Linked DNA regions of Homo sapiens. The protein of the gene in region 2 purifies or fractionates together with the protein of the main gene of each other region. This does not show direct contact. Each region holds a gene or a part of one and is shown on either strand. Other genes may lie near its edges.

Region 1 (3,970 bases), on a different chromosome or scaffold from region 2:
GAGTGGAAGAGGTGGAAATCTGCTGAATCTAAATGAATTTAATTAAGATTATCCCCTGATTTATTGTGGGGGCTGGGGTGGCTGGAATCATAGTAATTACTCATAATTACTACTCAGAGTCATTAAGGGTGCCGCTGACCACCTCTAGAATTAATTTTGACATATCTATAGTCAGGTAAGATAACAAAAGCAGTTCGGAATGAAACTTAAGCTCAACCCATCACTGTGACTACATTCAATAAAGTGAAGGACCCTGGTGTCAACCAAATATTAGGTACTGTTACTGCCCCTGTGACCCACATTACAAGTACTTCTGCCAAGAAGTCAAAACATGCTTCAAATAAACAAATCTTTACTCTCTCTTTGTTTTTTTGATATGGAGTTTCGCTCTTGTTGCCCAAGCTGGAGTGCAATGGCACAGTCATGGCTCACTGCAGCCTCCGCCTCCCGGGTTCAAGTGATTCTCCTGCCTCAGCCTCCCGAGTAGCTGGGATTACAGGCGCCTGCCACCATGCCTGGCTAATTTTTTGTATTTGTAATAGAGATGGGGTTTCGCGATGTTGGCCAGGCTGGTCTCCAACTCCTGCCCTCAGGTGATCCGCCCACCTTGGCCTCCCAAAGTGCTGGGATTACAGGCGTGAGCCACCGCACCTGGCCAAATAAACAAATCTTGATGGTTAAAAATAGAGATACACATCAGAGTAGCCTGGTATTGCCAAATCTGTGCTGAAGTATTTAGAATCAAATTTAAAACATGGGAGTTTGCAATGAAGAGATGTGTACACTTCTTCTGCCCCAAGGGACTTTATCAGGGTGATACTCTTCCACATTCAGAGGGCTCCTGAATCAATACTTTGATTTAAAGAGAGCAGTCATCATTTTCTGTGCGTGACCATGTTTGTTTTGCTATTGCAGATACATGGCCCCTGAAGTACTTGATGAAACCATTAATATGAAACACTTTGACTCCTTTAAATGTGCTGATATTTATGCCCTCGGGCTTGTATATTGGGAGATTGCTCGAAGATGCAATTCTGGAGGTACCTTTCTTTTTTGCCTTTGCTCCTACCTCCCATTCCAGGATGCTGGATCACCCAAAGCTGTTTTACTGCCCCCTTTCTTTTTACAACCTGTTGGATGCCTGTTGCCAGAGCCTGAATCATCGTTTAAGGTTGCCATCAAAGGTGTGGAGGTAGCTGTGCTTAGGGTGCGTTTATTCTTCAGGGATCAGTTTGTTGAATAGCGTTGTGTGTTATGGTAACCATTCTGAAGGCTCGTTTGGCTTTATAAACAAACAAACATTGTTTTATTAGTCCGTGGCGGGGAGTGCCCCGGTGCGCATAGCACGGGATTCATGCAGTGGTCTCCTTCACATCAGAAGCAGTATATTCTAACGCGGTGGCTCCCAAGCCACATTCATGGGAAACCCTGCTGTTTCATTGTTAAAATAATAGTGCTAATTTCTAAATTTATAAAAGTGCATAGATTTTTCTTAAAAGTGAGTTTTTTCTCCCATAGTTAAAAATCGTTGGCATTTGCAGCTGCTTATTCATGACAGAATCCAGTAAGAAATAGTATCAGATTTAGCAGAAACACTTTTTATTGTCAACTTAGTATATCAGTATTTTATGATAATTTCCATATATTCTGCCACATGATCAAGTTCCAGGACCTCTAGAGCCCTACTCTCAGCCATTTATCTGTGATATAAGAGATTCCAGGGCAGTGAAAGTGATTGAAAAAAAGAACTGGTGGTGCTCACTTCGCCAGCACATATACTAAAATTGGAACAATACAGAGAAGGTTAGCATGGCCCCTGCACAAGGATGACATGCAAATTCCTGAAGCGTTCCATATTTTTTAAAGACCTAGTATTTGATAGCACCACAGGGTGACTATAGTCAATAATATAATTGTACATTTTAAAATAACTGAAAGAATATAATTAGATTGTTTGTAACACAGTGTAAATGCTTGAAGGGATGGATATCCCATTTTCCCTGATGTGATTATTATGCATTGCATGCCTGTATCAAAACATCTCATGTACCCCATAAGTATATACATCTACTGTGTTCCCACAAAAATTAAAAATTAAAAAAATCTAATCTACAAAAAATATGACAAGTCTTCCAGCAGAACTGTTTTGTATATTAATACCCTTTTCCAGCTTCCATTTATGACATGTTTGGTAAAATCCAAATTATGGAAATAGTGCCCAGGTAGTATTCATGGAATTGTACCTCTTAAATTTTGATCAGTATATGCAGTAAAACAGACTAAGAGGCCAGGCGCAGTGGCTCACGCTTGTAATCCCCAGCACTTTGGGAGGCCAAGGCAGGCGGATCACGAGGTCAAGAGATCGAGACCATCCTGGCCAACATGGTGAAACCCTGTCTCTACTAAAAATACAAAAATTAGCAGGGCATGGTGGTGCACGCCTGTAGTCCCAGCTACTTGGGAGGCTGAGGCAGGAGAACGCTTGAACCCTGGAGGCGGAGTTTGCAGTGAGCCAAGATCGAGCCACTGCATTGCAGCCTTGCGACAGAGCGAGACTCCATCTCAAAGAAAAAACAAACAAACTAAGAAAAATCTGGTCACACAGGTCTTAAACTGTGAATAAGTTTATTTCTTCTTATGACATCCAGAAATTGAGGCTAAATATATAATAATGCTAACATTTATTCACCACTTGCTATGTATAAGCTCATTTAATCTTTACTACTACAAGTAAATAATAAGTAGGTGCTATTATCATCGCCATTTTACAAATGAAGAAAATGAGTCACAGAGAAGTTAGGAAATTTGTCTAAGGTCACATAACTATTTTAGTAAACAAGGGTTCAGACTCGGACAGGCTGAGGCCAGGGCTTAAGCCTGTAACTACCCCTTAGATAATTACCAAGTCCAATTCTCTATTTAAAAATATTTCCCAGGCTGGGCACTGTGTCACACCTGTAATCCCAGCACTTTGAGAGGCCAGGGTGGGCTGATTACCTGAGGCCAGGAGTTTGAGACCAGCTTGGGCTACATGGTGAAACTCTATCTTTACAAAAATAAAAAAATTAGCCAGACATAAAGGCCAGGCATGGTGGCTCACGCCTGTAATCCCAGCACTTTGGGAGGCCAAGGTGGGCGGATCACCTGGGAGTTCGAGACCAGCCTGGCCAATGTGAAGCCCTATCTCTATTAAAAATACAAAAATTAGCCGGGTGTAGTGGCGGGCGCCTGTAATCTCAGCTACTCAGGAGGTTGAGGTAGGAGAGACTCCATCTCTACTTAAAAGAAAAAAAATTGTCTCATTAGCTCAAGACAGCAGGGTTTTTTTGTTTTGTTTTGTTTTTCTTTTTCTGGAAAAGGGCTTGAGAAAAATTAATTGGCTTTTTATTTTTATTTTTTTGAGAGAGGGTTTCTCTTTGTCACCCAGGCTGTATTGCCATGGCACAATCTTAGCTCACTGCAACCTCCGCCTCCTGGGTTCAAGCCAGTCTCCTGCCTCAGCCTCCCGAGTAGCTGGGATTACAGGTGCCCACCACCACTGCGGGCTGATTTTTCTGTTTTTAGTAGTGATGGGGCTTCATTGTGTTGGCCAGGCTGGTCTCGAACTCCTGACCTCAGGTGGTCCACCTGCCTTAGCCTCCCAAAGTGCTAGGATTATAAGCGTGAGCCACTGTGCCTGGCCTAAATTGGCTTTTTAAAACTATCTTTTTATTATGGAAAATCTTTCTAAGTTTGTAGTTCTTAAAGATGAGGACTTAAAAAAATGCAGTGCTATTACCACACTTTAAAAAATGAACATTAGGCCGGGCGCGGTGGCTCATGCCTGTAATCTCAGCACTTTTGGAGGCCGAGGTGGGCTGATCACAAGGTCAGGAGTTTGCAACCAGTCTGGCCAACATAGTGAAACCCCGTCTGTACTAAAAATACAAAAAAATTGCCAGGTATGGTAGCGTACGCCTGTAGTCCCAGC
Region 2 (3,621 bases):
GTGTTTCCTGGGAAGAGTGTGATCCTGCGCTGCCAAGGGACTTTCCAGGGCATGAGGTTCGCCCTCTTGCAGGAGGGAGCCCATGTTCCCTTACAGTTTCGGAGTGTCTCAGGGAACTCAGCTGACTTCCTTCTCCACACTGTTGGAGCAGAGGACTCTGGGAACTATAGCTGTATCTACTATGAGACAACCATGTCAAACAGGGGGTCATATCTCAGTATGCCCCTTATGATCTGGGTGACTGGTAAGGACCGACCGGACATGGGACTGGGATGGAGATCATTGGAGAAGGGGTTAGGGAGAGTAATTCCTCCTGGAAGGCTAGGCTAGGCCACGGAGGGGAACTACCGTGCCCAAGAGGAGAAAGATAGAGTGTTAATTTAAGCAGGAACTCATAAGTTTCTATAGTCACCACTTTACAACCTTGGTCTCTTTCTAGACACATTCCCTAAGCCATGGTTGTTTGCTGAGCCCAGTTCTGTGGTTCCCATGGGGCAGAATGTTACTCTCTGGTGCCGAGGGCCGGTCCATGGAGTAGGATACATTCTGCACAAAGAAGGAGAAGCCACTTCAATGCAGCTCTGGGGATCCACCAGTAATGACGGGGCATTCCCCATCACCAATATATCTGGTACTAGCATGGGGCGTTACAGCTGCTGCTACCACCCTGACTGGACCAGTTCTATCAAGATACAACCTAGCAACACCCTGGAACTCCTAGTCACAGGTAAGGGGAAGAGGCTGTCGAGTGGGCATGGAAGTGTAGAAAGGAGGGAATAGACTAGTTCATGGGAGATAGTTTTCAGAGAGCTCGAGGAGAGGCAACCAATTGCCTTTCCTCTTTATTGAGCAGAGACCCCAGGGGTGATGCACTGGAAAGTGACCTCTTCTCTTTGACCAGGAGTTCATTTCTTCCAGGCTTACTCCCCAAACCCAGCCTATTAGCCCAGCCTGGTCCCATGGTGGCCCCTGGCGAAAATATGACTCTTCAGTGTCAAGGGGAACTGCCAGACTCAACATTTGTCCTGTTGAAGGAGGGGGCTCAGGAGCCTTTAGAGCAACAGAGGCCAAGTGGGTACAGGGCTGACTTCTGGATGCCAGCAGTGAGAGGTGAAGACTCTGGGATCTATAGCTGTGTTTATTATTTGGACTCTACTCCCTTTGCAGCTTCAAATCACAGTGACTCCCTGGAGATCTGGGTGACTGGTAAGGTCCTGGAGACTTCAGTACAAGTCACGATTTTGTAGTTTTTAGCAGTAAGCAATAAGGGGGTAAAAGGCTAAGTTCAGGATCATTTCTTTTAACTCTGTGTCCTTGTTGGTTGCAGATAAGCCCCCTAAACCCTCTCTGTCAGCCTGGCCCAGCACCATGTTCAAGTTAGGGAAGGACATCACCCTTCAGTGCCGAGGACCCCTGCCAGGTGTTGAATTTGTCCTAGAACATGATGGAGAAGAAGCACCTCAGCAGTTTTCAGAGGATGGAGACTTTGTCATCAACAACGTAGAAGGAAAAGGCATTGGAAACTACAGCTGCAGCTACCGCCTCCAGGCCTACCCTGATATCTGGTCAGAGCCTAGTGATCCCCTGGAGCTGGTGGGGGCAGCAGGTAAGAGAATAATCTCTCCATGGTCCTGGTGTGACACACCTGGGATCCCAGGGACAGTCCCCATGGAGACATCCCAAATCAGGAGAATGGAGGAGCTTTGGAGCCAGGGACCTGAAGTGTGTCATCTTTCTCCTAAGGATGATGAGGAGGTGGGACCTTAAATATATTTGAAGATAGTGAGTGGGTTTCTTTTCAGGCCTCTTTTCCCCAAGGAAAGGAGGGCTGCTTCTGCTTCAGCATAAACTCTGCCACTGCCCACCCCCTCTGTAGTCTGAACAGATGGCTCCCACGTGAACCCTAAAGAAGGCCAGAGTGTGGGGCAATACCAGATCAAGGGGAACATACACACGCTAATCTCCATGGCCTCGGTTTCTCCTCTTTCATCACCACAGGGCCTGTTGCTCAGGAGTGCACTGTAGGGAACATTGTCCGAAGTAGCCTAATCGTGGTGGTTGTTGTAGCCTTGGGGGTAGTGCTAGCCATAGAGTGGAAGAAGTGGCCTCGACTGCGAACCAGGTAAATAAATGCCTCATTATGGCCCCCTTCTGTGAACCAGGTGGTGCTAGAAAAACAATCATACAAATGCTCCCCTAGTATCTGAGCCCCACCGTGCAATCTGTTTTCAGTTTCTGGGTCCTCCCTTACTCATGTCTTTTTCTTTACATAGAGGCTCAGAGACAGACGGAAGAGACCAGACCATTGCCCTTGAAGAGTGTAACCAAGAAGGAGAACCAGGCACCCCTGCCAATTCTCCTTCATCAACCTCTCAGAGAATCTCTGTGGAACTGCCCGTTCCAATATAATAATCTCCTCCTTTACAAGAGCTTTCCTCTCCTCTCTCTTGCTCTCAGAGACCTATAAATCCAACCAGTTACCCTGCAAGTCAGCCCCATCTGCTGTTCCTTGGTCTCTAATCACCTGAGCTGGGTAAAGGGGATTCTGGGAGTTGAGAGCTCTGCCAGGGTGAGATGTTTCCTGAAGAGAGGTTCCCCACCCCTGTAACTCCTCACTGTACTGATTTACTGGCGCATGAAATTCTATTAAAAATGCATTCTTCTGAATAAAAAGAGTATTCACTATTTAACTTCAAAAACTATGGCTGTGGTCTTCTATTGGTCTGTTTTCCACTAACAATTTAGAAATGATGTATTGGAGCTGATCTCGATGGCAGAATAAGAGAGTGCAGGGGTACGAGAAAAGAGAAAGTTGTTCAAGGATGGGCGTGGGGAGGGGGCTCCAAAATAGCTACTTCCCAATTTGGTTTGACACATAGTCACTGACCAGAGTATTCTTTTGCCCTTCCATGGGATAGATGAATGAATGAATGGCAACACTCTCTCCAAGTTGAGCCTGAGGAGGGAAAACACAGACATTACATGCATTTCATTGTGTTACGTTTGGGTCCATAGTACATCCACTTTCAAACAGTGGGATTGGCCCTCAGCAGCACTTTGAAACTGGAAAAGCGCGCTTTGTGACCCTTACCTAGCAATCACAGGGTGTAAATGAATTCACTCTTAAGTAAGAACAATTAATCAAATCTGATACTTTGTCCCTCTCTAAAGAGAGTTCCATTTTCCCAAAGGAATGTGCGTGTAATGGTGGGATCTCAAGAAGCCAGTAAGCAGATGAGGTGGATGGTTTGGAACAGGGGACCTGCCAGTGTCGCCTCCCAGGATTCCAAATGGGGAAATGGTGGGGCGGGGGGCTAGCTCCCATTCTCAGCCACTGATCTTTCCCCCTGGATTAGAAGGCCACTTGCCCCATGAGTGGGAATTCAGTACACATTAGGCCATTAGGCCGTTTGGAATGGGGTGGGTGGCTTACCTAGTTCCTCAAAGCTTGTTAAAGACCTCAGAAAAAGTGACCTACAGGTCTGAGAGGGGGTCATGACCCCTTCAAATCTGACCCTAAAGAAGTTAAACTTGCCTCCCAGCAGTGTTTAATTCTAAGCTAACACTGTTCAATAGAGCAATGTACAAGGGTACAGTACCTGGTGAGTTATTTAACCCTGG

What was found. Proteins that work in one complex are often made in the same cells at the same time.
Region 1: the proteins of IGSF1 (region 2) and ACVR1B purify together in Homo sapiens (affinity purification with western blotting; one study listed by BioGRID). This does not show direct contact.

The regions. Positions count from the first base shown.
Region 1 is NC_000012.12:51,985,903-51,989,872, forward strand, and holds part of ACVR1B (activin receptor type-1B isoform a precursor), read left to right. Parts: intron 1-915; coding exon 916-1,040; intron 1,041-3,970. UniProt on the Homo sapiens protein: Transmembrane serine/threonine kinase activin type-1 receptor forming an activin receptor complex with activin receptor type-2 (ACVR2A or ACVR2B).
Region 2 is NC_000023.11:131,272,584-131,276,204, reverse strand, and holds the end of IGSF1 (immunoglobulin superfamily member 1 isoform 1 precursor), read left to right. Parts: coding exon 1-244; intron 245-439; coding exon 440-727; intron 728-918; coding exon 919-1,206; intron 1,207-1,327; coding exon 1,328-1,606; intron 1,607-1,998; coding exon 1,999-2,122; intron 2,123-2,273; coding exon 2,274-2,409; 3' UTR 2,410-2,699; downstream 2,700-3,621. UniProt on the Homo sapiens protein: Seems to be a coreceptor in inhibin signaling, but seems not to be a high-affinity inhibin receptor. Antagonizes activin A signaling in the presence or absence of inhibin B.